Regions from separate parts of the Homo sapiens genome. Here all the other regions are linked to region 1. Evidence: fine-mapped expression QTL. A gene starts in region 1. Each other region holds a variant in brackets. All regions are shown on one strand. Distances are between the middles of the regions. Region 1 holds the start of CCNY-AS1 (CCNY antisense RNA 1). Region 2 overlaps CCNY (cyclin Y). Region 3 overlaps CCNY (cyclin Y). Region 4 overlaps CCNY (cyclin Y). Region 5 overlaps CCNY (cyclin Y). Region 6 overlaps CCNY (cyclin Y).

The links.
Region 2: its variant is fine-mapped to the expression of CCNY-AS1 in whole blood (INTERVAL, PIP above 0.99).
Region 3: its variant is fine-mapped to the expression of CCNY-AS1 in lymphoblastoid cells (GEUVADIS, PIP 0.95).
Region 4: its variant is fine-mapped to the expression of CCNY-AS1 in sun-exposed skin (GTEx, PIP 0.98).
Region 5: its variant is fine-mapped to the expression of CCNY-AS1 in tibial nerve (GTEx, PIP 0.92).
Region 6: its variant is fine-mapped to the expression of CCNY-AS1 in sun-exposed skin (GTEx, PIP 0.92).

The regions. Positions count from the first base shown.
Region 1 is chr10:35,334,238-35,339,237 of GRCh38, reverse strand. CCNY-AS1 (CCNY antisense RNA 1) reads left to right here and starts at 2,814. Exons shown (of 4, transcript NR_186477.1): 1 at 2,814-3,018; 2 at 3,162-3,310. It overlaps CCNY (cyclin Y), which reads right to left and starts at 2,729. Exons shown (of 10, transcript NM_145012.6): 1 at 2,031-2,729. The coding sequence starts at 2,184. RefSeq lists a silencer at 2,364-3,103.
Region 2 is chr10:35,431,547-35,436,546 of GRCh38, reverse strand. All of the region lies in intron 1 of CCNY (cyclin Y), which reads right to left. Among named protein-coding and RNA genes, the nearest start is that of CCNY, 98 kb to the right of the region's middle. RefSeq lists a silencer at 2,643-2,712. The variant A/G (reference allele first, on the strand shown) is at 2,046.
Region 3 is chr10:35,379,905-35,384,904 of GRCh38, reverse strand. All of the region lies in intron 1 of CCNY (cyclin Y), which reads right to left. Among named protein-coding and RNA genes, the nearest start is that of CCNY, 46 kb to the right of the region's middle. The variant G/A (reference allele first, on the strand shown) is at 2,682.
Region 4 is chr10:35,458,899-35,463,898 of GRCh38, reverse strand. All of the region lies in intron 1 of CCNY (cyclin Y), which reads right to left. Among named protein-coding and RNA genes, the nearest start is that of CCNY, 120 kb to the right of the region's middle. RefSeq lists enhancers at 1-217, 642-1,184, 1,185-1,729. The variant T/G (reference allele first, on the strand shown) is at 2,453.
Region 5 is chr10:35,531,178-35,536,177 of GRCh38, reverse strand. All of the region lies in intron 7 of CCNY (cyclin Y), which reads right to left. Among named protein-coding and RNA genes, the nearest start is that of GJD4, 72 kb to the left of the region's middle. RefSeq lists an enhancer at 4,503-5,000. The variant C/T (reference allele first, on the strand shown) is at 2,326.
Region 6 is chr10:35,439,703-35,444,702 of GRCh38, reverse strand. The region is part of intron 1 of CCNY (cyclin Y); the gene reads right to left. It overlaps LOC124902410 (a long non-coding RNA gene), which reads left to right. Exons shown (of 2, transcript XR_007062112.1): 1 at 1-953; 2 at 1,108-1,292. Among named protein-coding and RNA genes, the nearest start is that of CCNY, 110 kb to the right of the region's middle. The variant C/T (reference allele first, on the strand shown) is at 2,742.

The sequences.
Region 1 (5,000 bases):
TCTGGTTTAACTGAAACCAATGTTGAGAACTGCTGGCTGGGTCAATGCTAGAAGTATTATTTATTGAATTTGAGAGACAGAAGGTGAATTAATATTTCGGGGTTTAAACTAGCATAATCATATGAACTGGGATCTGGGATGAGAGGGCACTCCACAGCCTAGATTGGAAACCTGCCCTATACTCTCTCAAACTATCCTGAATCTGCAAAAGAGTCTTCCAAACATTCTCTCAAAAATTCCTGATGACTGAAACTTAAGATTTCTTTGAAATGAAAGAACACACAATATCATTTCACTGTACTCTGGCAAAATTGTACTGAGCCTTAGTGCCAAATACCTGGTTACACTTATTTTTTCCACCTTATTTCCTTACAATAGTCTATAATAACTGTATGCAGCCTGGCTCTAAGAAATGTAAATCTTCTTTTTTTTCTTTTTTGATCCATCATTCAAAACAAAGCCTCCGCTAGATACTGCACAACATAAAAAGGAAATTTACTGCACATCATAAAGAAGACATTATTTCCAAATGTTTTCGCCTGTCAACATAGTATAGGACTGGGTAATGGCTTTCTGTAATAAACTCATTCATTTATTCCTCCCTTTAAAGTACAATACTTACTGTTTATTATATGCTAGACTTTTCTTTCAGGTGCTAGAGGCTGTGAAAGTGATCAAGACCGATCTGGCCTTCATCCTTCTAGATGCCTTTAAATGCATAAATTTAAGAAGAAAGTATGGCTGTAGTTCAAAGACATCTAAGCGTATGTTTAAAATAATGGAAATCTAAAATAACAACACTAGACACGTCATATGGAACCATAATTTACTAAGCGCGTACTAGAAACCAGACGTTGTGTTACTCCCTTTATACATGGCACTCATTTAATAAAGATGCTCTCCTAAAAAGATTAAACTACCATTTAGAAGAAATTACACGAAGACAAACGAGAAAAATCTTTCCTTTAGCAAAGTTTAAATGTGGCCTTTCCACAGTGGAGAGAATCTTCCATCCTAAAGTGGACAGGAACGAATTATGAAGTTGTGTTCATTCATTCACACAAAAATTTCTTCATATTAGTTCAACCAGATTAACTATGAGAAGATGTTTGGGTTAAAAAAATCACCTTGTCATAAAAAGATACTTCCAATTTCAAATCTTTTCAGTTGAAAATTCTATAAACTATATTTTAAGCATGATGCATAAATATCCCTCTGTCGTTATCACTGAGCAACAGTGCTAATAAATATGTTGCCAAACCAATAAAATAAATAAAACATTACTGCGTGCAGTAATTAGTCTTAGCTTTTTTTCTTTTTGCAAACTCCAGACCAACCAAAAGTCACCTGAATAAATCAGAAATTCATAGGACTGCAATTCGGGCCCATGCAAAAACTGAGACTTAACCCAAAGGTGTCTGACAATCTTTTAAAGAGCATTCTCGGGAGAAGCTATTTGACTAATCCTGGAACCGCCACTCAAAAAAATCATTTTTTAAAAAAAACGGTAGAATGGGAACGGGGGAAGTGGAGTCCATTTGTAAGGTTCCGGGGAACTGACTCAACATGGTTCTCCAACTCGAGGTTGGAGACACCGGGATTCCAAAATGGGAATCCACTCACTTCGCTTTTATAGGACAAACGCGTGCACAACTTGGCTTCGGGCTGCATTCAGGTAGTGCCGGGAACCCCGAGCTCCCGGGCCGCCCCCACCCAGCTCTGGCCGCTCCATTAAGGACGAGGGCCGGCTCCTGTCACCTCGCGACCCACGCGCACACACCCGCCCTAGGCCCGCCGTGCTCGATGCCGCGGGCCTGCAAAGTTTCCGCGGCCGCTCACTTGGGGGTAACCAGCGAGGGGTACGCCCAGAGGCTGCGGGGCCCCGGGCGCCTAGGCTGCGCGGGCGAAGCCCCGGTTATGCACGGGTCGCCGAGACCGGCTGGGCAAGCAAGAGCAGCCGGGCCGCCCCGACGTTGGCTGTGCGACTGTTGCCGCGGGGGCGGGTAGGGGGCTCGGCGGGCCGCACTCACCGTCTATGTTCTCCCGGTCGCTGATGTGCTGCAGGTTGCAGCCCGTGTCCTCGCGGCTCAGGTCCGTGTCTGGCCGGTAGGACTCCAGCCGGGAGTGGGCATTCCTCCGGAGCTTGGGACTGGACGACACGCAGCACGAGGTAGTGTTCCCCATCTTCGGCGGCCCCCCGACTCCTGCTGCTATCCTGTTCTCCCAGTCCCCGGGAGCGGGGCGCGGGTGGACGCGGGGCGCGGGCGGCGGGGGCGTGTGGGGAGGCCCGCCCGCTCGCCGCCACGGGAGGGGGCGGAACGGCGGCCGGCCGCCGGGTCAGCAGCGGCGGCGGCGGCGGGGCCTCGCCATGGGCGGCGGCGGCGGCGGCGGCGACGAGCGGGCGACGGCCCCGGCTCCCCCTCGGCCGGCCTATCCGCGGCGGAGGAGCGCTCGGGTCCGCGCGACTGCGGCCGCCGCGCCTACCTCACCCCGCCGCGGCCATGGCGGGCGGCGCCGCGCAGGCCGCCTCCCCCCCGCGCTTCCCCAGTTGGTGTCCGCTTCCCCGGCGGCTGCGGCGACGGCGGCCGCCTCGGCAAGAGGTTCCGGTTCAAGCCGGGGGCACGCGTGTCCGCGCCGGACGGCGGGACTAGCCGACGAGCGGGCGGGCAGCGGGCGTGGGCGCAGCCCCCGGACTCCTCGCGGCGCGGTGCGGCGCGGCCAGGGAGGATGCTGGCGGCCCTCCCTCGCCAGCGGCGCCCGCCCTCGCCGCAGCCCCCGCCCCGCCCCGTCACCGCCCCTTCCCTCTGCCCTGGAAGCAGATCGGCGGCCGCGGGGAGGTTCGGGGCGGCGCAGCCCCGCGCGGTTGTGGGATCGCTCCCGGGGGCCGCTCCTCTCTCGGGCACTGGGGTCGCGGGAGACGTCGTCGGGAGCTCGGTTTCTGGAGGCCCTTCCCCACCCGGCCTCTGCCTCCTCCACTCCCCCGGGCTGGACGGAACGGGGCCCAGCGCGGGATGCGAGGTGCGTCCCCGGGGCCCGCAGCGGGCGGGAGCGCAGCCAGGGCCCGGTCGGGGACGCAGGCCCAGGGCGCTGAGGCTGCACCTGCCTCTCCGAAACCGGGCTGGCTCTTTTTGTCTTTTTATTTTTCTAATTTATTTTTTTAGAGGTATGATTTCGCTCTGTCGCCCAGGCTGGAGGGCAGTGGCGCAATCTCGGCTCACTGCAGCCTCGAACTCCTAGGCTGAAGCGATTCTCCCGCCTCAGCCTCCAAAGTAGCCGGTACTACAGGCGCGCGCCACCACGCCTGGCTAAGGTGTGTGTGTGTGTGTGTGTGTGTGTGTCTCCAAAGTAGCGAGGACTACGGGTGTGTGTGTGTGTGTGTGTCTCCAAAGTAGCGAGGACTACAGGCTCCCGCCACTACGCCAGGCTAAGGTAGGGTGTGTATGTGTGTTAACTTTTTGTAGAGATGGGATCTCCCTTTGTAACACGGGCGCCCGCCACTAAGCCAGGCTAAGGTGGTGAATGTGTGTGTGTGTGTGTGTTAACTTTTTGTAGAGATGGGATCTCGCTTCGTAACCCGGGCTGGTATCGAACTCCTGTCTTCAAGGAATCCTCCCGTCTGGACTCCTCCCATGGGATTACGGGCATGAGCCACGGCACCTGGCTATTTTTTTTTTCTAAGCATTTAAATAAGCTGGGGCTTGATTTGGGAGTTTTCTATTGTATTTTGAGCTTTGCCGAGGACTTGATAGTGACCTTGCTTTAAGCTGTGAAATAAATCTTGGGGTCCCAGAGCTATTTTAATATTGAATTCGCTGTGGAGTTGTTTTGAGTTCCTTGGAGGTTAACATGAGATAGAAAACTAAGTTAACACAACTCATCGACTGCCCTTGCTTTGCTTTGCTTTGCTTTTAGAATGCCATCGGGTTTTGTCATGTTGGGAACAAGTTAACTTAGGCCAGTTGACTAAGATCAAGGTATGTGAACATGCCTGGCTGGGAGAGAAGTAGAGTAAATGTTGGTTCGCATTCCCTCCCGACGCCCACAATGCCAGCCATCCCTGACTTTTCTTGCCTTTATTGGGAAGAATATAAGGTGGCAGAAACAAACTTCCCACCCTTTTTCCAAATATTTACTGAAGGAGTCTTGAGGAGAGTCTTGTGGGGTGGGGGGGTGGGGGTGGGAGCTGGGAATGTTTTTGAACTAGTTCTTGAAAAAAAAACTAGTACAATAGTACAACTGTCTTAATTTTATATATGAGGAAACTGAGGCCCAGAGATGAAATCATGCCTTGATTTATGCAGACCTCAGTACCTGTTCGTGACAAATCCAGTTACTAAAAGGTAAGAGAAGGAATAAGGGACTTGATATTTATCTAGCATCAGCAATGTGTGGACATCGTGTGAACGGCTTTATAAACATTTCATTTAATTCTCTACATCTAGCCATTTTTTAACCTGTGCTTTCCCTCCCTCTCAAAGTACTGTTTATACATTTATTAGTCCATATTTTAAACGCTCCATGCTCTCAACTGTATTAATGCTATTTGTTAGGATAAGTGGCAGATGTCCATGGAAAATAAGTGGCTGCAAAGTGGTAATGCTGACCAGATGAGAAAAGAAGTGTAAAAGGGAAGTTCTAAAGAATTAAAGCCCTGGAGAGGGTGGGTAGACAACAACAGTCCAAAATAGTGCTCTTCATTGAGGCTGTGTAGATTTTCCTGCTTCCTGGGAAAACTGGGGCATATTTACACTTGCATGTGTGTATTCAGATTGTCTGGGGCTATGGAGTTTGGGTCAGATTGCTGAACCCGTGGGAGAGAAGTTCCCTTGTTGTCTGTTGTTGTCTGTTCTGATTGCTGCTTTGTAATTTGGGCCACATATGAAAGTCAGCATCCAGTCATTGGACCATAGGTGTGTGGCATATCTACTCAGATGCATTAAGCTATTTTTATTTCATTATAAAATGTATAACATTTACATTCAAATTATGGTTTGAAGGGC
Region 2 (5,000 bases), 97 kb before region 1:
GAAACATCATGACCCCCACAACAGCTCTCTCCCTGGAGCAGGGCCCCAAGCTCAGGTGAAACCAGGTCCTACACTGTCAGCCTCCAAAGACTAACTGGAAACCCTTCAACCAACTGCAGGGTAAAGCCAGCAGCAGCAGAAAACCTAACCCCAAGAGCCAGGAGCAAGAGCTTCTGACAAACAGGGAGGGCAGAGGTCACTTTATGCCCAAGATAATCTTTCTAGATACCTGCTGAGGGGTGGGGGACCCATAAGGATCAGCTCACCAGGAAATTGTGAACACTGCATCCCACCACCGCACACACCTTTCTAAAGCCCTGCCTTTCCAAAAGGCGATGTCCAAATCCCTGCTTGGCACTCAGGGTCCCACAAGTCACTCCTGGGCTTCCCTCCTGGCCTTGCCCAGTCCCCATGTCACACTTCCCCATGGCCTGGCTGCTGCTGCTGCCCCACCCCTGCCCAACTCTCCAGCTCCCATGTCTGGGCTTCTCTCTCCACCTGAAACTGTCTCTTGTCCACTATCCAAATTTCATCCCTCTTTCATAACCGAACTTCCTTCCTTTCTGGAACTTCTGCTGACCACCTCCCACCCAGAATTAACTTCCTCCTTCCGAACTACAGGAGGCACTATCCATCGTCACTACTACCATCATAATTAGGAGGAGGAACTTAAACATCTTAGCCATTATCTGTGCCAGATGTTCTCCCATTTAATTCTCACCAATACCTAGCATTTGGTTCCCACAGCAGAGAGGAAGAACCTGAGGCCCAGAGAGATTTAATGAGAGCCTCTGAGCACATGTCCACTGAGTCCTCAACACAAAAGCTTCTGATTGTACCAACAGCTCGCAAGGTCTGTGACTGAAATAGTCTAATATACAAAAGTGTGTAAACAGGTAACCCAGAAAGAACACAGAGCTGTAACGGCAGCTTGACTGTGCCATGTTTTATCTTTAAAATAAAGGTTAAGCATTGTATTGTACAAGACAACGTGTGTGATTATTTTAGTATAGAAATCATCTCTCATATTACTTATCCTCAGGTAGAACCAGTCCTCCACGCAGATGGGCCACACGGGCCTATGAGACAGCCCGATATGACCCACTAGGCCACACTGTTCCCCAAGGGTATGGGGCAGGTTTATTCCACACATTGGGCTTAATCCCTTACAAGGGGCCTTTATGTACATCCTATCTTATTTCAATTTCACAATAAGCCTGTCCATAGGTAGAACAGATAGTTATTTCCATTATCTCACAGACAAGGAAACTGATTACCAGGTAAGTGTAAGTGTCTTACCCTGTAGCTACTGAAGGCCCTGGCAGAGATAGGGACCTGGAGCTTCCAACTCCTAGCCTTAAAATCCATGTTTCCAACCATCCTCTTCTGTTTATTGGCCCTGGATAGACACTCTCCCCAGTCATCTCTCAGACTCATGAAATCCACATGTTGATGCCTCAACTCATTGCCCCAATCCAGGTGCAGCCTCTGCAAGGCAGGGGGGCTTTGGGTTTCCTCATTTGCCTCCTCGCCCCCTGCCTTCTTCACCAGTCCATCATCTCACAGCGCTCAGCACAGATCATTCTGTTCTCTGACATTCTCAAAGTAAAAAGGAGTCGAGAAGCAGGAGATACATTAAGTAGAAAGAAAGTATAAGGGGCACAAAGTGAGGAAAGGGGAGAAAAACAGAAGCAATAAATAACTGAGAGAGCAGAAAAGAGTCTTATCCAAGCAGCAGCCCCAGCTGAGAAGGGCAAATGTGCCTAGACATGGGTCAAAAAATACAGTCATTCTCAGAACTGTGATATGAACAAGGCAAACAGGGGAAGTCATTCTGAAAATACCTACTTATTGGTTTCATTCAAAGCATCCCTCTGAATAAAGAGTGATACTTCCTAAGTGGAAAGGAGAGTCTTGCTCTTAAATGTTTTGTAAAAAGTGTTTGACAAAGGATCACTTAAGGGCAAAATTTACACCAAGAAAAACAGAGTTCAAAATTAAACACTTCCCATTTGAAAACTTTTTTAAATACCATTTGTCAAATA[A/G]TGCAAGTCTCTAAAATCATAAAATCATATATGTGTAGTATTAGTCCCAAAAGTAAGAGCAGGACAAAACTCTCCTGTCCATAGCCAGGCTCTGTCCCTGAGGATGCGCCACTCCACAGTGCGCTCAGCTGGGCACTCCATCAGGGTCATAACGCATTTGTGAGTGGAGAGATTACACAGCCATCACTTTTCCCTGAACCCATCACACCCAAATCCCCATTTCAGACAGAGGGAGACAACATAATTACTCATGGCAATGGGCCAGTCTTTTCCAGACTTACAGCCTTTGTGGGTAAAAACCAAAGCCACAATGAACGTCCACATCTGCATCACATTAGCAATATGGGCCTCATCCGCCTTCATGCTACATGTCACTGGTTTTTAATACCCTAAAGAGAATAAATTAATAGAAGATTATTTTCCAGCAAAGACAATTCACAGGCAGGCTCTTGCTCCCCTTCCCTGTCACTCACAAGTGTGTAAATATGACTGATGAGATTTGTAGCACTTAAGTTCGCATACAAGGAAATACTGCCACTACTAGTCAAATTCCTGTGGTAACATGCATCACTTTCAGAAACAACTATTTCTTAGCCAGGTGCAGTGGCTCACGCCTGTAATCCTAGCACTTTGAGGAGGCCAAGGCAGAAGGATCACCTGAGGTCAGGAGTTCGAGACCAGCCTGGCCAACATGGTGAAACTCTATCTCTACTAAAAATACAAAAAATTAGGCATGGTGGCACGTGCCTGTGGTCCCAGATACTGGGGAGGCTGAGGCAGGAGAACTGCTTGAACCCAGGAGGCGGAGAATGCAGTAAGCCGAGATCGCACCACTGTACTCCAGCCTGGGTGACAAGAGTGAAACTTCATCTCAAAAAACCACTATTTCTTAAGATGGTAGAACCAAGACTAATACATGTATCATACACTAGAAAATCCATGTTTTTATCTTTTTATTTACAATAACTAACATATCTAATTTTTCTACTTTGGAACACTGAACATTATTTTCCACACCTTTTCTTTGATGACTGTTGTGTTATACTATTTGACAAGAACCTGTCAAATAACTACCCTGAAATCTTCTTATGGTACTGAAGGTATGAAAAGAAACCCCAAAATAGAGGTTTTATTAGATAAATAAAAATAAGGCTGAAAAACATTCTAGGACTTGAAAAAAGTAAATTTAAAAGCTGAGAAGAGAGTACAAAGGAAAAATGTATTTTATTTCATTCAAAACGTTTTACAATAGGAGGAGGGAGATAATCAATGAAAAACCCCACCTTAGTTTACAGGTAGTATCTTTTTTATTATTTTTTGTAGAGACAGGGATCTCACTATGTTGCCCAGGCTGGTCTTTAACTCCTGGGTTCAAGGGATCTTCCCACCTCAGCCTCCCAAAGTGCTGGGATTACAGGTATGAGCCACCGTGCCCAGCCTACAGGCAGTATCTTAAAGAGATGTTAACCTCATATGCACATCAAGAATCTGAATGCTCACTCAGCTGGTAAAACCAAGGTGGTAATGCTAATGGCACGTTAGTCTAGTTCAAAATATTTTTTAGTATTCTTAACCACATTCCAGACACATTAAGGATCAAATAAGATGCTGGCAAAAAAGACAGCAAAGGAACACACTGAGCCCTGGGGCACCTTTGCTGTATAATTAAAAGATTTGTTTTGTCTCTTACATTCTAATAATGGATTTTTCCTAGGGAGAACAGAAAAGTTACTTTTCAGAAAACATTTTAATTTCCAAAGTTAACCATAATTAAATTTATGAAACCCAAAATGTGAACTTGTTTTTGTTTTCATATTAAGGAAATTTCAGCTTGTGATCCTAAGCTTTCAGTGGAAGGAACAGATTGTCTCTCTCAATAAGATGGCTGGTGGACAGATATATATGCTCTACCCAACAGCTTATTAGGAAGAAGTACTTAAATATTACAAAATACACAAAAGTATCATACTCTTATACCCAAAGCATAGCACAGTATGTTCAGTTATTAAGTCAAGTGTCATGAAAATTATATGAAGGTCTCACTAAAGTTCAAAGTTTCAGTCAAAGGTAAGCAGTTTGACAGAAATATTGGTCATTTACTTACAAAATCTAGAGAATCCCCATTTATTAGTGCTTACTGAGTATCAGCACTCTTAGGTTCTTTGGTATAATCTCATTTAATCATCTCAACAGTCATCTTAACCACATTAAGAGGTAGCTATCATTATTCTCATTTTACAAATCAAGACACTGAAGTGGAGAGAAATTAAAACACCTTCCCAAAGCAGAACAGCAAGTCACGGAGCCAAGATTCCAACACAGCACTTACAATTCAAATCTAATGATCCTTCCCCTACACTTAGACAATCTGGGTTAGCTTATACTAATAAAAATACGCCACATGAATCAACTATTTAAGTTACTGATATGCAAGATGATTCTCGCACTGACATTCGCTCCATAATATGACCTCCTTATCTTTGCTGGTGCCACTCCTTGACAAGAGAAAATGAACCATAATTTTTCTCAGACACAGAACTGAATACCTTATAAACTTCCATACCAACAAATCCATGATGTCTTTATTTTACAGATGTAAAAACAGAGGATCACAATAGGAGGCTAATCTCTGGTGGTTTAGAGGCTAGGAGAAAAAAACAACAAAAAACTAGGAGGCTAAGTAACCAACCTAAGAAGGCCACACCCTGTGAGTGGTGGAACCGAGGTCTAACGTAGCCTATGAGGCTCCAAGCCTGAGCCTGGGACCCGATGCTTAGGGTGCTTCTTTTTCCCCAACAAAACGAGCATGGCTTTACTGGATTCTGCAGGAAGAACACGTATCAAAACTCTAAAGAATGACAGTTCAGTCAATGAAAACGAAGTTAAAAATACAGCATTCATTTCCAAAGCATTTGACGGACAGATCAGACAGAATTCAAAGGTTAGAGCAATGAC
Region 3 (5,000 bases), 46 kb before region 1:
CCATGGCAGAAATTAGATAATCCCACCAAGGCATCAATTGAGGAGCCAACAGAATTCTCAGACGGCAGGCCTGCTGTCTCGGAAGCCCACGGAAGCAATTTGTGAGGAAAGCTCTTCCCACAAACCTAAACTGAAAGGGTCCCAGGGGCACCTTGTCCCTGGGGGAGAAGGACAGGCAAACTATGTGCCCAGGACTGGCCTGGAGTCATCTCCACACATGAGTGTATAGACCCAGATGGACTCACCCTATGTGAGTCGTGATGTGTACCCACCCCGCCCCTCCACTGCAGGGCCACTCGAAAGCCAAGTAGCTGTGAAAGGAAAACAAAAACTTGGGACTCCAATTCAATATGTCAAAAGGAGAAATATTAAGCTGAAAGCTAAGTCATGCAAGATGCTGCCTTTCCTTTTGTTCCTACGTAGATAGCTACTGATAAAACGTTAAGTATCTCCACAGGCGGCTACTCTATGTTCACCTTATCTAGGTAAAGTGTTGATTTACTGAGTTCCAGAGGAATACGTAACTGACTATTCCCCTACCTGCTCCTTTTCTCTTGCAACATGTGGATTCAGTAATACCCTACCCTCTTTCCCCTTCAGCCTGCTTTTCCCCTTTGAATACTAATGCCCTCAAAATCATCTTTGGAGAAAAGCACAGACTATAAACTGCTTGTGTGATGCCATGTTTTTTTTAATCCCCGTCATTGTCCTTAATCTTAGCAAAATAAACTTCTAAACTGATTGCGACCTGTCTCAAATACTTTTGGGTTTATATAGCTATTCTGCTAAAATATGAAGGGGAAGGAAACCCTCCTTTAATCAGAATTTATGGTGAGGGAGTTGTAATTGTTTCCCAGTGTGCTGTCTGTGAAACATCATCAGAAAATGTGTTTAACAGAACATTTCATAGTTAAGTTTAGGAAATGTTACTTAATATATATATATATATATTCTTACTCTCATTCCCCACAATGCATAATACAATTTACCATTGACCATATAAAGTGCTTAGAGTAGTGCAGGAAAGAAACCTGCTTTACTCTAAGCCAGGTTTTTCCCAATCTTAGTTGATAAATCTTTTTTCTACCTAAAAGTACTGTCCCCAATCTAGCTTGATCTTAAAAATCATCTAGGACTATTATGTTAAAACAAGATTCCCCGATCCCTTTATCAAAAACTTTAAGGGAGGGGTCAGGTAGCTTAACAGGCACATGAGGTGACACAATCAGAACAGTTGAGAAAATATTGATAAGCTAACATTTGGCCAGAAATACTTTCTTCTTTTGAAAATGTTTCAGGCCAGGCACGAGGGCTCATGCCTGTAATCCCAACACTTTGGGAGGCCAAGGTGGGCAGATCACCTGCGGTCAGGAGTTTGAGACCAGCCTGGCCAATATGGTGAAACTCTGTCTCTACTGAAAATACAAAAATTAGCTGAGCGTGGTGGCGGATGCCTGTAATCCCAGCTACTCGGGAGGCTGGGGCAGGAGAACTGCTTGAACCTGGGAGGCAAAGGTTGCAGTGAGCCGAGATTGTGCCACTGCACTCCAGCCTGGGCAACAGAGCAAAACACCATCTTAAAAAAAAAAAAAGAAAAGAAAATGTTTCTAAAAGTTTCTAGTTCAATTTCCTACTTTACTAAGTTTCATACGCTGAATATTGATTCAACGTCATTATTCTAAGCACTGTTATCCATTTACAGTCACCCCTAGGTCATCTGCAGGTGACTGGTATTTGGACAAACACCAAAATCTGTGCATGCTCAAGTCTCCCCATCGGAGCTGTAGAACCCACAGATACAGAAAAAGGCAGTTCTTGGTCACGCAGGTTTTGCATCCCGAAATATTGCGTTTTCGATCCATGTTCAATTGAAAACAATCCACATATAAGTGGACTAATGTGGCTCAGACCCAAGGTGTTCAGGGTCAGCTGTGTAGTACTAAGGGTACACAGAGTGTAGTATGGTTGACTCTCTACTGGTCATGAGTATATCACAGCAGCAGTTTGTTTGTTTGTTTTTTACCTTTTGGATTTTATTTTCACTAAGTTAATCATAATAATAACAACAATTATAATTACTGAGCTCTTAAATGTACTGTCTCCCATAGTTTTCACAACAACCTTATGAGAAAAGTACTGCTGTTATTTTTCCCATTTTGAGGAAATGAAGAAGCCGGCCATGCAAGTTTAAGTAACTTGCCCTAAGTCAGTGTCTCAAGCTCAGCACTACTGGACAACTGGGCCCGGTAATTCTTTACTGGAGGGGTAGAGGGGCTGTCCTGTGTACCACAGGACAGTTAGCAGGAGTCATGTCTTTACCCACAAGATGCCAATAGCAGCCCCCATCCAGTGGTGATAACTAAAATGTCTCCAGACCTTGCCAAATGTGCCCTGGGGGCAAAATCAATGGAGAAGCACTGTTCTAAGTGATGCTGGAGATGAGAGTCAAGAAGCCAGGGTTCTGGCTGAGGTCTTACCACTGCAAAGGCGCCACGGCCCCCTCCCAAGAGAAGGCATCAAGCCCCCTTTGCATGCTCCAAGCAAAGGAGCCGGCAGGAGCTCTTGCCTCTGTCGCACACACAGTCTGTCAGCACTGCAGACAGGCCTGAAGCTTGACAAATATCAAAGTGAGACAAAGCTGTACCAAGTGCCAGCAATTTCAGACACAGAGTAATCCTTCA[G/A]TACAAGTAATGCCCTGTGTAACTTTCTTCCTATCCTAACGGTTCCAGTTGCACATATGAAAGATTCTCAATCTCCTCACTTAAAAACGAATCACAGAAAAAGCCTTCGCCTACAACGGCATATCTAACACATTAGACACCCAGGAAGGAATATTTTTTAACACACCCTCCATGTATGAAAAAAATTATTTTCAGTAATAGTTATGTAAAAATCAGTAACTATTATTTTCTTGATTTGTTCTTTAGTTTTAAAACAACTGTCTTAAATGTGATAAGTTTTAATTTTACAGATATTATTTTTGCACTTACCAAGCAAAAATATTACACCTCATGGTTTGCATTCTGTTTCACTGTTGTAATTTTTAAGGACTCTTGGACAAAAACTCCAAGTGATCAAACAGAGTGACAATTATAGTCATCAGTAACACTATCATTTATTTCAAATCTACTGTTTAAAAACAGATATACGTAATACTACAGAGTTAAATACACAAGACTGTCCTAAGCAAGCTTTCTGAACAATTCTAAAGTCTTAAGAAGTTACTCTGGAAATGAATGCAAGCAGCTGAATCCCCATGTGTTTAGGGCTAATCTGACACCAGGAGTGTCAGATTTAACCTCCATGTTGCATACAGTATTTCTTTTTTTTTTTTTTTTTGAGACGGAGTCTCACTCTGTCACCCAGGCTGGAGTGCAATGGCACAATCTCAGCTCACCGCAACCTCCACCTCCCGGGTTCAAGCAATTCTCCTGTCCCAGCCCACCCCCTCCAGTAGCTGGGATTACAGGCACGTGCCACCACATCCAGATAATTTTTTGTATTTTTAGTAGAGACGGGGTTTCACCATGTTGGCCCGGCTGGTCTCAAATTCCTGACCTCAGGTGATCCACCCGCCTCGGCCTCCCAAAGTGCTGGGATTACAGGCATGAGCCATGGCGCTCGGCCTACAGTATCTATTAAAGGCTAAGTACTCAAGAAGTACTCACTTGAAGCTTACGTATCTATTATTAAAACTCAATAAAGCAATTATTTAGAACACCAACAAAAGATTTTGGGGGAAAGAATATCACCGACATTGTTTAGAACTGCAGGCAAAATTCTAGACATTTAGACTTTACAGGCAGACTTCTGGATGCTTTTATTACTGTTATTAAATCCTCCACAGACAATGCACCCCTCATCACCAGCACTGGAGCAGACCACTCCCACCACCCCAGCCTTGGGATGCCGCTGTCTGCCTATCAGAGTTAAAATGGTACTCGGACGCTTCAAGCCCAGAAAGTCAGTTGCAAAAGAATCAAAAGAATAAAGGAAAGAGAAAAGCCACAGAAAATCACAATAAAAGAAACAACGAAGGAGTGAGATCTCTTGGTTCCACTTCTAGCCTGACCTCAGCTGACCGTGTATGTCAGGCAAACTTTAAAACTTCTCCAGGCAGTGCAGCAGAGAGGGTGAAGTCACAGGCGGCTGGCTGCGGACTGGGAGACCCCAGGCAAGGTTCTTAATCTCTCTGGGCCTGTCAGTTTTCTCATCTTCAAGAGAGGAAATATATTTGTATCTAACCCCAAAAGGCTATTGGGAGGTGATAAAAGTAAAGCATGTGAAGTGCTCTATATGTGATAGTTGTACCTGGGCAATATCTTAAAATTACTAAATCTGGGTGAAATATAGAGACTCATCGTACTATTATCTTTAATTCTGTATAGTTTTGAAACTTTCTGAAATAAATGTTTGAAGTTAGTTATTATCAGGTTCCTTAAATACAACACGTAAGAGAAATAATCACCTCCAAGGTCTCTTTGGGCTTTAAAACTCTCTGATACATTCCACACTGGAAGGATAGGATTCCCAGGTGGAAATCAGGAGTGGGAGAGAAAGGGAAAGACATTAGAGAAATAAGCTGTGACCACCAGTCACCTCCTCAAGTAATCACTGCATAATCAATGTTTCACACATAAATGCTTCAATGATTGGACCCTGAGCTGACTCCAAGCATTCATTACAAAATACAAACCAAAATGGGAGCAGCACTTCCAGATCCAAGCCCTCGAGGATCTAAGACTGGTACCTGGCAGCCTCCTTAACCCAGTATCTGTTGGAGTTCAAGTCCTACTCGCTTCCAAAACAACATCTTCCAAGTGTAACCTAACCAATATCTGGGACAGTGTTCCAAGTCCAAACGTTCGAAACACAAAGTAGTCCTCCCATACAAACTGTTGACTAGTTCACATTTTTTTACTGCGCTGAGTGGAATGCTTCATATGACAGCCTGGGACTGATGAGTACTAAAATTCCTGGAGATGACAGCTATGTTTCTC
Region 4 (5,000 bases), 120 kb before region 1:
CAGCTTCTTTGCTGATGATCAGGAAGTAGGTCAATGTCATAAACTTACTTCCCAAATCCAGTTAACAAGTGGTTACTTTCAAGCAAATGATGGTGTAAATTTCAAGCTCTGGAAGTATTTATCATTTGCCTACATCCATAAATTACTGTCAGAGCCTTTGATTTCTTTGCCTCTTCCTTTCTCTCCAAGTTGAGGATGTGCTGCCAAATTTAATAATGAGTTTTAAAACAATTTCCATAAATCTTTTTTTAAAGTTCTGCCTGACAGTTGTTTCCTAAAGTGTTGGTATATGATGTCATTTGTTATCAAATTGTAATCTCTTAGCTTCATTGACTCTTTTTCCTTTTAAACTTGGTGCTTCCAGAGTTTCACTATTTATTACCTTCCACGAGCTTATGCTGCTTTAGAGTTCAGTCACCAAAACATCCTTGACTCTTCCTTCTGTCAGATTCAGTAACTTATATACATATATGCATATACTCTGGATCACCTGAGTTAGCATATTCTACGTCCATTGTTACTGAGGTAACAGATGCTTTCTGAACGTTAACTCTGTGGGTAACCAAGAACACAGGAAGAAACTAATGTTTAGTAAGCATCTACCATGTGCCAGACATGTTTATTTAATCCTCACAGACACTCTCTAAAACAGACATTACTAATCCTATTTTTTAGATGAATAAGGAGAACCAGATAAGGTAAATCATACAAAGTCAGACTCCTAGCACATAGCACAACTATGGTTCCACATCTAGCACATCTGAATGCAGAACCCTAGCTTGAATCCCTCTAGTGAAAGAAGTCACTTCCTTAGAAGCCATGAAGATCAGGAACCTCCATCTGCCAAAAGGCAGTGTCAAGGAGACACACCTTCACTTTCAGTGTACAGAACCTCCATTTACCAGCAGTTTATACTTTCCAAAAGTGCCGCTGCAACCATTTCCCCAAATATCTCTAACTAAGGCCTAACGTAGCTGATACACAATACAATGCTGGGAATGCCAAGATCCCATTGTCCTCTGCTCTGCCTTCCTCACAGCACAGCAGTGCACCCTGCAGAGGCGCTCAATGGAAAGAGCCCTCCTGACAGGGGCACCACCCACACTGAGATCTGGGACACAACTTGTGCAGGCTGTGGGTAGAGGGACGGCTAGTGTTTCTGACCTGGAGTGGTGGGCAGCTTTCCAATCCAGCACCAGCCCCTCTGCTCTGGAATGACCCCTCCACCCGCACACTCTGAGAAGCTGTCACAGAGAGCAGCTGCAGCAGCAGTGAGTGCAAATAAGCAAATAAGACAGGTCCTGGCAGAGAGGTCCTTGCCCTCTGTGTTTCTGAAAGTTCAATCGCTTCCTGTTAGGTTCAGAGTAAGGCTCTTGGTTCCAGCCTCAGCATGGTCTCACTGTCTAGCTAGTTCACCATGGTTTCCTGATTTTCAGAAGAGGATCTTCTCAGATCATAATGGCAAAGCAATACCAGAAGGGTGAGATGAGGGTGAAGATGCAGAGATGCTAAGTGCAGGAAATCTCAAGGAGCAAAATACAGGAGAAAGGGAGCGGATACACTATCCAGTGGCAAGACGGGGTCCTTCTGCCACTGGTGAGCCAGGACTACCGCCATTCCTAAAGAGGCATCAAAACGAGCTCCACCTAACATGGCTGCTTTGAAGAAACACTGTTTCTGTGGATGCAAAGGTGTCACAATGTTACTTTAGTGAAAAACATCAATTTTATTATATTGTGGTAATATTCACATTTAATCATCAAAATTCCTATTTAATCCACTTCCAGAGGTTTATGGCTGACATGTAAAGACTTGATTTTCTAGAGTTAGGATCAAACTCCAGTACTGAATTGAGTGCCTTAGAGTGTGGCCACCATTGAAGCAAATGCCTGGAGATTAGAGGAGCCTGGAATATAACTATATTGAGTGTAAGGAGAGGTGCAAAGAGTGGGATGTGCCGGGAGAAAAAAAAACAGAAAATCCACAGAGAGATTTATTTATGCATTTACGTATGCAGGCTGGACTCAATAACATCAGGGACAAATGAAGATGCTAACACTGAGATACCTCAATAACAAATCAGACATTTCCACTTTCAAACACAAAATCATTCAGTAGACCAAGGGCCCATACTTTGCCATGAATAATACACATAGAAGCCATGAACACTAGAAAAAGGGCAGCAAAAGAGACCTTGGGTTCAAATTTTCATCAAGTGGTCCCAAGTATTCTGAAAAAGATCCCCAAGATGCTGGGGGATGACTCTAAAGAAAGAGTCTTTGCTTGGCCAAGCTTTGGTCGGGTTTCTGAACCTTCTCCTGGGCCCAACTGTGCACTTCCTTATAAACTCCACTTTTAGCAAAGCACCCTGCTAAGTCAGATTAGCAAGAACCCCTGACCCTCGACATCTAATCAAGCTCCTTGTCCTTGATCACCCTCAGGTGATCCTCCC[T/G]GTCTGCCTTCAGCAAGAATCCTGTCAGACTGATTTAGCCAGAATTCTCCTTACTCCTGATGTTTCCTCTTAGTAATTTTCCATTCACTAACCACATCCCTTGCTCCTTGGCCATAAATTCCCACTTGCCCATGCTATATTTAGACTTGAACCTAATCTCTTTCCCCCATCACAAAACCCCATTGCTGCAGTCCCTCTACCTATCGAGATGGTCCTTAGTCAAGTTTGCCTTACTGTGCTTTAACAAGACTCATGGAATAATTTTCTCTTTAACACAACCAAACCTCAGGCACAGGATATGGAAAGTGTCATCCTTCAGATCCCCCACTTGCTTCCATAAACAGGAGACCTTCAGCCAGCCCAGTGGTGGGCCTGGGAGCTGTCCATGCCATCGTCTCCTATTTCAGGCCAGCTGGGTGGATCATCAGCCCCTCCCACCCCTGCCCACTGCTCCCCACTCTTCACATCCCTCCCTCAGTTTATAATAAGTGGATGTCCTAGCCCAACCTCCACATACAAGTTCCTTTGATTACAAATACTGTATCCTGTTCATCTTAGACACAGTACAGTGCTTGGCATGGAGCATCACTTATCATCCATGCTCTATAAATGACTGAGTAACAAATAAAACAAGAGAACCTGGGCTAATGAAAGGAGGAAATAACTGAGTGAGGAGTATTATGATACTGTGCCGTGCCATAGGTACTGTGCTGCCACATTCAGGACACTTTAGAAAACCTTATGCAACAGAATAGATAACACATTAAATATGTTCCACGAACATTTCATGCTGATTATTTCCTCTGAGCTCCTGCTAAAGGTATTTTCTTTTTTCTCTTCCATTTGTTCAAATCATATTTATAATAACAGTAGCTTGATGCTTACTGAATGAATGTTATGTGCCAGGCACTGTATCCAGGCATTTCACCTACATAAATTCCAATTTCCACAAAACCTTGAAACTTCTAATAATTATCCTGTGTGTGTGTGTGTGTACATATACAATTCTTCTTCTTCCAATGTGGCCCAGGGAAGCCAAAAGATTGGACACCCATGGTGTAGATGAATGAAGTGATGCTTCTTCCTAGGTATGATGACACTGTTTCAACAAGGTGGGACCCTGAGGGCCAGGGGGCATCACCACTGTGTTTCTCTTATGCAATGCCTACAGTGAGTTGATTCTCAATAACTAAATAGAGATATACGAGAGAGAGAGATTTTTTAAAAGAGGCTCAGAGATGTTAAAGAACATTACTAAGTTCACACAGCTGCCAAGCGGCAGGGAGACACTAGGTCAGGGATATCAGGGAGCTCTACCTGAAACAAAGGCCATTCTTTCCCATGACACCATGCTACCTCACCAAGGAAGAGATGCTGTTAACATCCCCTGCTATTCCACTAGCATGCAATGGAGGTCTTCACAGCTTTTGTATCTGATTTCCAGGCTATCAGATGTTGTTTTAGGCTGCATTTATATCTACCTCAGCCAGTAATCCTTTTTTTCCCTTCCTTTTAATTAGCAAGGGACTGGAAGATCAGTTAGCTGTACTTGTTAGTCCTGGTATAAAGTACTCCCTCCAAGTATGTATTCCCCCCAAGTACCCAACACAAGGAGAGCCCCAAGCAGGTGCTCATCCAGTGCACATCTGATTAAGTAACAGGTATAATAATTATCTGCCCATTCCTCAACCTCCAGGCAAGTCATGATGGTGCAATGAGAGTATGCTCTACAGGGGCTGAGCTGGTGGAGGAGGTGGAACCCGCTACTACTAACCTAGGAGGAGTTCTGAGAAAACTCTGCATCCCCTACCACATTACTTCCTTTGTTTATACCCCTATAAGACAGGGTCCCACCTTGTCAAAACAGGGTGCAGCCCTGTCAAAACAGTGTCATCATGCCTGGGAAGAAGCGTCACTTCATTAGTCTACACAAGGGATGTCCAATCTTTTGGTTTCCCTGGGCCACAATGGAAGAAAAAGAATTGTCTTGGGCCACACATAAAATACAGTAACACTAACAATAGTTGATGAGCAAAAAACAAAACACAAAATGCAAAAAAAGGTCATAATGTTTCAAGAAAGTTTACAAATTTGTGTTGGGCTGCACTCCTGGGCCACATGCGGCCTGCAGGCTGCAGGCTGGACAAGCTTGGTCTATCTACACCTTTGGAAGAGATTCTGTGGCCTCTCAGACAGCAGCGCTGGCCCGGGAGCCTCTTGACTCTCAGCTCTGCCTCTCACGGTGTATCTGCATCACTCCAGATTCAACTAAGAAATCCCATCTGAACAGATTTCCATCTATTTTTACCCTCTTCTGAACTAAAGCTTCATTTTAATCATCAGTTAAAATAAGCTTTTTTACAAAATATGACGTGGGCTTCCCTCCACATGCTAAGCAGAATTTGTTCTCTTCTCTGTGGCTCAGCCTTGAGGTCCTCAGCTGATAGAAGTAGCTTCTGCTTCTCAGGTTTGGTCTTTCTGTCCCCTGCCTCCCTATCTGCCCCTCACTCTCCCTTCCATTTTCTGCTCTGAATCAACTAAGGGCTGA
Region 5 (5,000 bases), 200 kb before region 1:
ACTTATCCACTACCACAAGAACAGTATGGGGGAAACTGCTGCCATGTTTCAGTTATCTCCCACCAGGTCCCTCCCACAATAATGGGAGTTATGAGACATACAATTCAAGATGAGATTTGGGTGGGGACACAGCCAAACTACATCACAAACTTATACAAATCTTATCACAAACTTATGTTCATAGCAGCAGGATTCATAATAGCCAGAAAGTAGAAACAAGTTAAATGTCCACCAACTGATGAATGAGTAAACAAAATGAAGTGCAGTGACCCTCAGCATCTGTGGAAGGTTGGTTCCAGGGGCCCCTGCAGATACTAAAATGTGAGGATGCTCAAGTCCCTGATATAAAATGGCAGAGCCATTTTCATATAACCTATGCACATCATCTTGTATACTTAAATCATCTCTACATGAGTTATAATACCTAATACAATGTAAACGCTAGGTAAATTGTGGTTATACTGTTTTGTTTAGGGAATAATGACAAGAAGAAAATTCTGTACATGTTCAGCACAGATGCAACCATCACAGGCCTAACCACATTTTCATTTTACAGTTGGCTGAATCTTCAGGTGCAAAGCCCTTGTACAAGGAGGGCCAACACTCACTCTGTCTCTCATACATATACGTATATGTATACATATACGTATACATACACATATACATACACATATAGGGAGAGAGACAGAGAGAGCCAAAAGCCTGTGGGTTGTGACCAACTCAGCATTCCACTGGAGGCTATATGATCAAACAGCAAACTGTTTATCATGAATGCAGGATGTGGGCAAACTCACAACTGCACCTGCCACCAGAAGGTTTGTTGAGTGTAATCACTCCCTGGTGCCGTGCTCCTTGAGGTTATCTACTGGAACATCTAGAGACTACTGTTCAGAGAATGCAGCTGTGCAGGCCTGCTCTAAGTCAAGCAGCTGACTGACAACCACCCCCTTCTCTGTATCTCCTTTACTCAATAAATACGAAGGGCTATAGAAGCTCTGGGCCCTTGTTCACTAAAAGCAAGGAGCCCCCTGACCCCTTCTTCCAAATACATTCTTTTGTCTTTGTCTTTATTCTCACGTTCATCCTCCTTTGTTCACTCCAACAGGGATTAGGGCTGCAGCATATATATAGATCTATATATACATACACACACACACACACACACACACACACACACATATATATAGATCTATATATATATATGTGTGTGTGTGTGTGTGTGTATGTATCCCCACTCAATGGAATATTATTTGCAATAAAAAAGGACATACTATACATGCTACAACATGGATGAATCCCAAAAACATATGCTAAGTAAAAGAAGCCAATCATGAACTATCATATGAGATACTATTGATATGAAATGTTCAGAATAGGCAAATGACATAGAAATTTGATTAGTGGTTTCCTGGGCCTGGGTGGAGGCTAAGAACGAGGAGTGAATGCCAAAGGGTAAGGGGTTTCTCTATGGGGTGAAGGGAATATTCTGAAATTAGGTTGTAGTGATGGTTGTACAATGTACTAAAACCCACTAAAATGCTCACTTTAAATGGCTGAATTGTATGGTATATAAAATATGTCCCAATAAAGCTATTAAAAAATAGGAAATAAAGAAAGGGACCACACCCCCTCCTGTCTGGTCAGCTGTCACTTTGCCACCTCGATCTCTTCTTGGTTCCCCTTCCCTTATGCCGGAATCCCTCCATCAATCACCAACTTCCTCTCTTTCTCCCTCTCCCATTGCTGTGGCTCTACAGACAGAACTAACCTCACACGGAATGCTCAATCAAGGTTCAGTTGAGTGATGTCCCCGAAGTTGACGAGTTTTTTTCTGTCCCTTCAGAAAGCTTAAGCAGGGCTGGGTGTGGTGGCGCACGCCTGTAATCCCAGAACTTTGGGAGGCTGAGGTGGGCAGATCACTTGAGGTCAGGAGTGACCAGCCTGGCCAACATGGTGAAACCCCCTTCTCTACTAAAAATTCAAGAAAAATTAGCAGGGCATGGTGGCGCAAGCCTGTAATCCCAGCTACTCAGAAGGCTGAGGCAGGAGAATCGTTTGAAACTGGGAGGTGCAGGGTGCAGTGAGCTGAGATTGTGCCACTGTACTCCAGCCTGAGCAACAAAGTGAGACTCCATCTCAAAAAAAAAAAAAAAGTTAAGCAATGAAATGAAATGTGTCAATGTTCTAAAACTACTGGGGCAGGGGAAGATAATAAATAGGTATTAAATGATCCTTATGTTTCAGGCACATCACCACCATGTACTTCAGCCAGTAGGCAGTTATTACTGTGCTCACTACATGTTCAACAAATACTTACTGAGCATT[C/T]ATTATGAGCTGGGCTGTGTTCCAGATGTTGGTCGTATTGTAGTAAACCACATGGACAAAAAGACCAGACATTTCTTACGCATGGGGCTTACTGACAAAACAATAAAATTAATGACTTCAACCTAAAGCATGCTGACAGGTGATAAGCAAGTGGAGAAAAAGCAGGAAGTGATGAGCAGGGAGTGCGGTGCAGGAGGGAGGTTGCAACTTCAGATATGGTGGCCAGGCAACAGCCCCCTGATGTGCCCTTTGAGCAAAGATGGGGAGGAGGAGGGCAGGACGCATCTCAAACACACCTGGGACAGAGGGAGCTGGGTGCCAAGGGGTGGAGGAAGTCCTGAGGTGCAGAAGTCCCGAGGCAGGTGTGTGTCCGGTACATCCAGGGAACAGAGCAGCTGCAGCATGACACTGAGGAGAGTGGAGGCAGCTGGGCAGAGATGGGAGGCTTAATCTTGCTAGGCCCCGTCAGTAACATAAGGGCTTTGTGTTTTCCTTTGAGGAAGATGGGAACCACCACAGGTTCTGAACAGAGGAGCGTGCAAAGTGAGAAAAAAAAGAGCAGGACCAAGCTCCTTCAACTCTGGGTCATGACTGATTTTTCTACAGATGAACATCTGACCCCAAAGGAACTGGGGCCAGTCAAAATCTCCCCTCTCCAAAACTGAAAGAGGAGACTGGGTTAGAGGGTGTGCGGCCTTAAACGGAGAGGTGATGAAGGGTGGGGAAAGCTATTAATACTGTCCTGCCACATCCCATCCGAAGCAAGAAAGCCGACCTGCACATTAAGGCCCCAGAGCCACAGCAGTGCGCAAAGGTGAGAGAAGCAGCCCAAAGGAAGAGAAACCTGCAGTGGGCCTCATTCTACAGCCTGATGTCCTTCCAGACCTACAGGACAAGGGATATGCGAGACCTGCCTGGACCTTCCAATATATCTCCTTCTGCCTTGGCCTCTGGCTTTCTCATCCTTCCAACAGAAGATCCCAGTTCAGACAGGCAATGAGCTTTTCATGTTGTCGAAGTACCGCATAGGACTAAAGTGGGTGCCATGCATGGTTCTCAGGATCAGTCAGCTTGGGTGACTCCTGAGGGAAGGGAAGGGCCTCGTGGAGGGGCAGCTGGATGCCAAGGCCTTTCTGCCCACTTCACTGCAGGCCTGGCTTCCTCCAGCTGCTGCAGGTACACCACAAAGGCCTCTACATAACTCATCAAGGTGCAAATCAATTACCTCACTCCCTTTCAAATTTCCTCATGTGGCAGTATCCATAGGAGAGCTTTCAGCATATTCTAGGAGGCTAAAAAATACACTTAGTGATCTAAGTTATTGTTACTCTTTTAAAAGGAAGTTGATTAAGCTGTGAAATATTTGCTTTGGGTGAAGTAGGTTTGGGTGTTTGAAGGGCCTGTAGGCTCTCTGTCCACAGCAGGCTGCAGTCCTACTCCGTGTGGGAAGCACGGCCAGGGCTAACTGCTCTTCCTCCTCCATTGCCTGCTGAGCAGCATGCCAAGATGCCAAACACATGCCCAGTGAAAATAAGGGCTTAATGAATGCATCTCTGTCAACTCCAGGCCAGACTTGTCCTGAATGACTGTTTCTAACTCTAGGGAACACGAGGAGGGAAGAACAATCCTACAAGAGTCTTGCTCAAGGCACACGTCTCTGTGCCCTCTACCCACAAGCATGCAGCTGCGCTGATGAGCCTCAGCAGACAGCAGAGACCAGAGGATGGGCTGCAGGGCTGCACCTACCACGAAGGCCTCCAAGGCTGCTCCTCTCCAGCTGCAACCAACAAGACCCCCATACAAACTGGTATCCTGGTCAACACCAGTCTATTTCATAGGACAAATGAAGATTTCAATAGTTACAATTATTCACAAGAAAAGTGCCAGTCCTACACTACTCCAAAGAAATGAACTCATCAGCCCTGTCACCTTTGGTGAGTGATGCAGAGGGCAGCAAGGGATGCCTGTTAGATGTTCTCTCAAGGCAGACACTGGGTGAGCTGTGGGGTTTAAATGCTGGCCCTGAACATCCTTCAAGCTAAATAATAATCCCGACCAGGAAGGCACTATCTTTCACAGCCAGGCCATATTTTTCTTAGGAATTAAAGGTAGAAAAAATCCCCGCCACTTTCCATCTACAGCAACTTCAAAATAAATCCTTCCTCATGGCATGTATTCCAGTACTAATTTCATCTATGGTTTCATCTGCTTTTCTTAATCTTCTTTTCCCTTCACTGAATTTCCCTACATAAAAATCTCAACCCTGTTGCCCTGTTGCGTGTTTTGGTTAGAACTTAAAATCCCTTTGAGGAACAAAGCTGGGCAGTACATACATTACTCAATTATGACATAGGAACCTGCAATCATTCCTAATCATCTAATGATTACTTGATTGTCTGTTCTATTATCCTTCAGGCTGTGAGTTCAATGAGAAGGAATGAACAAACAGATGAACAGATGAATGAATGAGCAACAAGCCAACAGGGTTTCTGTTCAGTTAGCCTCGGAGCACACAGCTCTTCATGTGGCGGAGACACAAAGAGTCCTTCGGTCGCCTGTAAAGCTTCTACTAGACAATTGTCTCTTCTCAGAAACTACAGGAAATGGTATTCTGATCTCCAGGATAGCTCATGCACAGGCAAAGCTAATTTCTCATCTAAGTTATACACAATGTA
Region 6 (5,000 bases), 110 kb before region 1:
CAGACTGCATCAATGACAGTAGTCCCTTGAGCTTATGATGGAGCTGAAAAACTGCTATCACCTAGTGACATCATAATGTAGTGCAACACATCACTCCTGTGTTTGTGATGATGCTGGTGTAAACAAACCTACTGTGCTGCCAGTCAAACAGTTATAGCCAGACACAGTGGCTCACAACTGTAATCCCAGAACTTTGGGAAGCCAAGATGGGTGGATCACTTGAGGTCAGGAGTTCAACACCAGCCAGACCAACATGGTGAAACCCCTTATCTACTCAAAATACAAAAATTAGCTGGGCGTGATGGCGCACACCCATAATCCCAGCTACTTGGGAGGCTGAGGCAGGAGAATAGCTTGAACCCGGGGGGCAGAGGTTGCAGTGAGCCAAGATCACGCACTGCACTCCAGCCTGGATGGCAGAGCAAGACTCCGTCTCCAAAAAAAAAAAAAAAAGCCAAAAAACAGTTAACTGTGAAACAGCCTCAGGCAGGGCCTGCAGGAGGTACCAGAAGAAGGCCTTGCTATCATGGGAGATAACAGCTCCATGAGTGCTGTCACCTCTAAAGCCCTTCAAGTGTGTTGGAAATGGGTATTCAATGTCGCAGAAATCAACCCTAAGACAAAGGATCTCTCAGCAAGGCTAATTTACTTTCTGCAGAAAGGGTGCTACTCGCTAGCAGTTTTGCCAGAGAGCACACACAAAAGAGACAGGGTCATTTATAGTCTGACACGTCCACCCTATGGCTGTGTCCAGTTTCCATTGGCTGGAATGGGACCTCACATTCTGTACTTGTCCTGATTGGCTAGCAACTTAGAACATCCCAAAAGAGACATACATAGAGGAGAACAAAGGAAAGGAGGAAGTAACTTGTGGAATGCTGAGAAAGGCAAAAACACCTCCAAATAAGGAAGAGGAACAGGCTATGACCTAATGCTTTCTTGGGCCTGTACAGGTATGCCAGGGGAAATATCTAGCCTAAAAGATGGGGGCTAAGAACACAAAGTATATTCCTTTCTTTATTACGGCTAGCAGATATTTAAGAATATTAGCACAGGTCTTTGAGTAAATTTTGCTTCTAAGAGAGGCTACTATTTATTCCCAATTAGACTGCGAGGAAAGTCCCTTTGAAGAGGAACCTCTACTTCATTTTCTACAGAGTGGGACAGAGGTGCTGGTGGAAGACAGTGATATTGATGATCCTGACCCTGTGTAGGCCTGGCTAATGTGTGTGTTTGTGTCTTGTTTTTAACAAAAAAGTTTAAAAAGACAATAAAAATTTTAAACCAGAAAACAGCATACAGAGTATGGATATAAAGAAAAAAATATTTCTGTACAGCTATCCAATGTGTTTGTGTTATAACTGTTATTTCAAAAGTCAAAAAGTTTTAAAAATTTAAAGTTTATAAAGTAAAAATGTTACAGCAAGCTAAGATTAATTTATTAGTGAAGAAAAATATTTTGTATCAGTTTAGTGTGGCCTAGGTGTACACTGTTTGCAAAGTCTCTGGTAGTATACACAAATGTTCTAGGCCTTCAGAGTCACTCTCCACCCACTTGCTAACTCACCCAGAGCAACTTCCAGTCCTACAAGCTCCATTCATGGAGATGGTAAACAGGCATACTATTTTTTATCTTCTATACCGTATTGTTACTGTACCTTTTCCATGTTTAGGGATGTTTAGATATACAAGTTCTTAACCACTGTGTTCAAATTACCTAAAGTATTCAGTCCAGTCAGATGCTGTACAAGTTTGTAGCCTAGGAGCAACAGGCTATACTATGCAGCCTACATGTGTAGTAGGTTAGACCATCTAGATTTGTGGGTAAGTACACTCTCTCATGTTCACACAATGACGAAATCACTTAATGAGACATTTCTCAGAAAGCACTTCTTAGAACATACCACCTTCATTAAGTGACACGACTGTATATGAAATAAAGGGAGAAAATAACACAAACCACATCAATAGCCCGTCCCGTAGCCATCCCCAGTAGTTTCTTTATTCATACTCCCAAATTCATTACTCATACTCTATATGTTCCAAACATGAAAATGTCTTCTACTCACCAAATACATCATGCTGTTTCATATCTCAGTATTTCAAACAGTTTTCCCTTAACTAAAAAGTTCTCATCCTACAAGCAAACTCCTACTTGTTTTTAAAAACTATTTTCAAATATCAAGTCTTGCAGGTAGACCACCCTAAACTCCCAACAAAGTACCTCCTATCCAGGCAATTTGTATGAGTCTCCGGTCTCATTATTTCACTACCTTTCAATTATAAAGCCATCTCTCCCACCACACTATGAGCCTGATGCACAGCAGATGGCTAATAAACTGTGAGTTAATTTTATGTCCTTTTAATGACTCACATTGCTTCTGCTTCAAAGTTCTAAGCTTAGCATTCAAGGTTACCTAATTTTCCCTTATTTAGTTCTATTTCTCCAACCACCACCATAAGCCCTTGGAGGGCAACCAGCACTGCCTCAGAGATCTGCATCACTCCAACGCAAACAGGGCCCTACACATCAGGAGTTATGGCAACACTCTGTGGGTCATGCAGGCTAAGTGACATTTCTAGCCAGCCCATGTGTTATACCCAGGTACACTTTCACTATTGCTTTACTAGGACTTTTAAGCTATTATTTAAAATGCAACAATGAATCTAAGTTCTTTCAAATTATGTCATCGTTTTAACTAAAACTATAAATGGGAACTTTTCCTTTCATACAGACTTTA[C/T]AACAATGGGTATTCTCTTAAGTATGATCATTTTAAATCATACAGCCAAATTTGTTTTCCAGAGAAACACATTTTTATTTTACAATTAATACGTAATTAACTTCATTTAATGAAATGAACTTTATTAAAGACATCTACACCTTAAAATAAGATACACCAGCATGAACTCTTATCAAGTTTATGCTAATAACCTACTGCTTTTTCTTTTCTATTTTCATACAGGGCCTCACTCTGTCACCCAGGCTGGAGTGCAGTGGCACAATCTCAGCTCATGCAACCTCCGTCTTCTGGGCTCAAGCAATCCTCCCACCTCAGCTTCCCAAGTAGCTAGGACTACAGGCACACACCACCATCCCTGGCTATTTCCTTTTTTATTTTTAGTTGAGATGAGGTTTCGCCCATGTTGCCCAGGCCAGTCTCGAACTCCTGAGCTCAAGTGATCCTCCCGCCTCGGCCTCGCAGCCACTGCGCCCAGCCTCCTACCGCTTTTTCCATTGAAAAGCCCAATTGCTAAGCTAAAGCATAGTAATAATAGGGCCCTAAAATTAAGAAAACAAGAAACGTACACAATGCAGATACATAGGAAACTCTGTACCACTCTCTAAGGCCACAAACACTTAACATCAGGGAAAGCTCTTATTCATCTTGTCTCTGTTCCTTCCAAAATGAAAGTCATTTCAAAGAAGACTGCTTCTGCTTCTTTGCTAACAACAGTTTAAAGGCCAACTTGTTCTTGGCTTACAATGGTTCCATTCTGCAACATGGTAAAACAAGGCGGTATTCAGAAGAGGCCAAAACACCTGTCAGTGCTACAGACTCTCCCTGACCCTCATACCACATGGGGCCCCATTCTAGCTCCTTATGGGACTCTTCCTTTCCATTTCAGGCAAATGGAGTCTTATAAGTGGTGCTAACAATATAGAATCACTTCTGAATTGGCAATTGTATACTCTCTCTTCTAGAGAAAAACCCAAAGCAATATAATGGAAATAAGAGCACCCATCCTTAACTTCCCAGGTACACTTGTTAAAACAAAATGATGTGTGAAAAGAGATGTCTTAAAATAGCAATGACACGTGAAAATCTAGACTTCTTTCAGCTCAGTTTATGAGTTAAGACTACCTCTCTTGTAGCATAATTAACAAATGTATGTAATGCTTCTCAGAAGTAAAGATAAGCAGGGACTGGAGTCCCACGTGTGCAATTACACTTCATTCTACTTTGGAAACTGCTCTAGGCTCCGTCCTTTCTGCTGCCCAGAATCACTCTTTCTAGGAGCTGATTCTGAAGTTCTCTCCCACAGGTGATCACCACCACAAAGCTGTGCCCCGGACAGGGGTCTAAAACAGCAGAATACGCTGCAGTGAAGAAAACTTGAAGCTTATTCTGAAGACATCTAGCAAAGAGTCAGCACTAGGAGGGGTGGGAAGCAAGGGTCTGGAGGAGGGTAGGCAGATCCAGGCCAGGCTGTTTTCATAAGCAAAGCTGAAATGGAGCAGCCAGGCCTGTTCTCTTACATCTCATCTACGCTTGCCTCTGAGGTTCAACAGCAGAGTTGAGCAGTTCAGAGACCACTTGGCCCTTTCCAGAGAACCTCTGCTAACCTCTGCTCCAGAGTGGCCAGGGACACAAGGACATGAGAAACAGCACAGGGGTGAGTTCCCTGAGTTTCCTTTCTGCCTCACTTATCTCAGATAAAAGCTGAAGAAGGAGACAATCTGCAAACATGAAGGGTACAGACCAAAGAACACCTGCTCTCTCTGTCCAAAGAACAGAAAGGAGCCTGTCTAGCAAGACAGAACATTTTTAGATAATAACCACTCTACTCCACAGGCGCCAAAAACGACTGTGGCTCCAGTCCCATCCACACCAACAAAGGCTGAGTGTGAGGCCTAAACTTTTGCCATTGTGAAGTGGTAATGAGATGCCCCAACACCTCTAGGTCCAAGAAGGCCAAGTAGGGGGCCAGGACTTTCATCCTCCACTGCCAGTAATAACCAGCTCCCTACACTGCTGCACTATCAATGAAAACAACATGGAGAAGTGAGACTCCCACCAACTATAACAAAGAGCCCCAGCCACATCCCCTCAGTGTCAACAGCGGCTAAGTAAAACCTGAACTTCTGTCTCCACCTGGCAGTAACAAGGGAGTGGCCCACCATCCTCTGCCAGAGCAATGCCATAAGTCAACTAAAACAGAAGGTTTAAATAAGATCCAAAATGTCCAGGAGGTTTCAATTAAAAAAAAAAAAAATCACT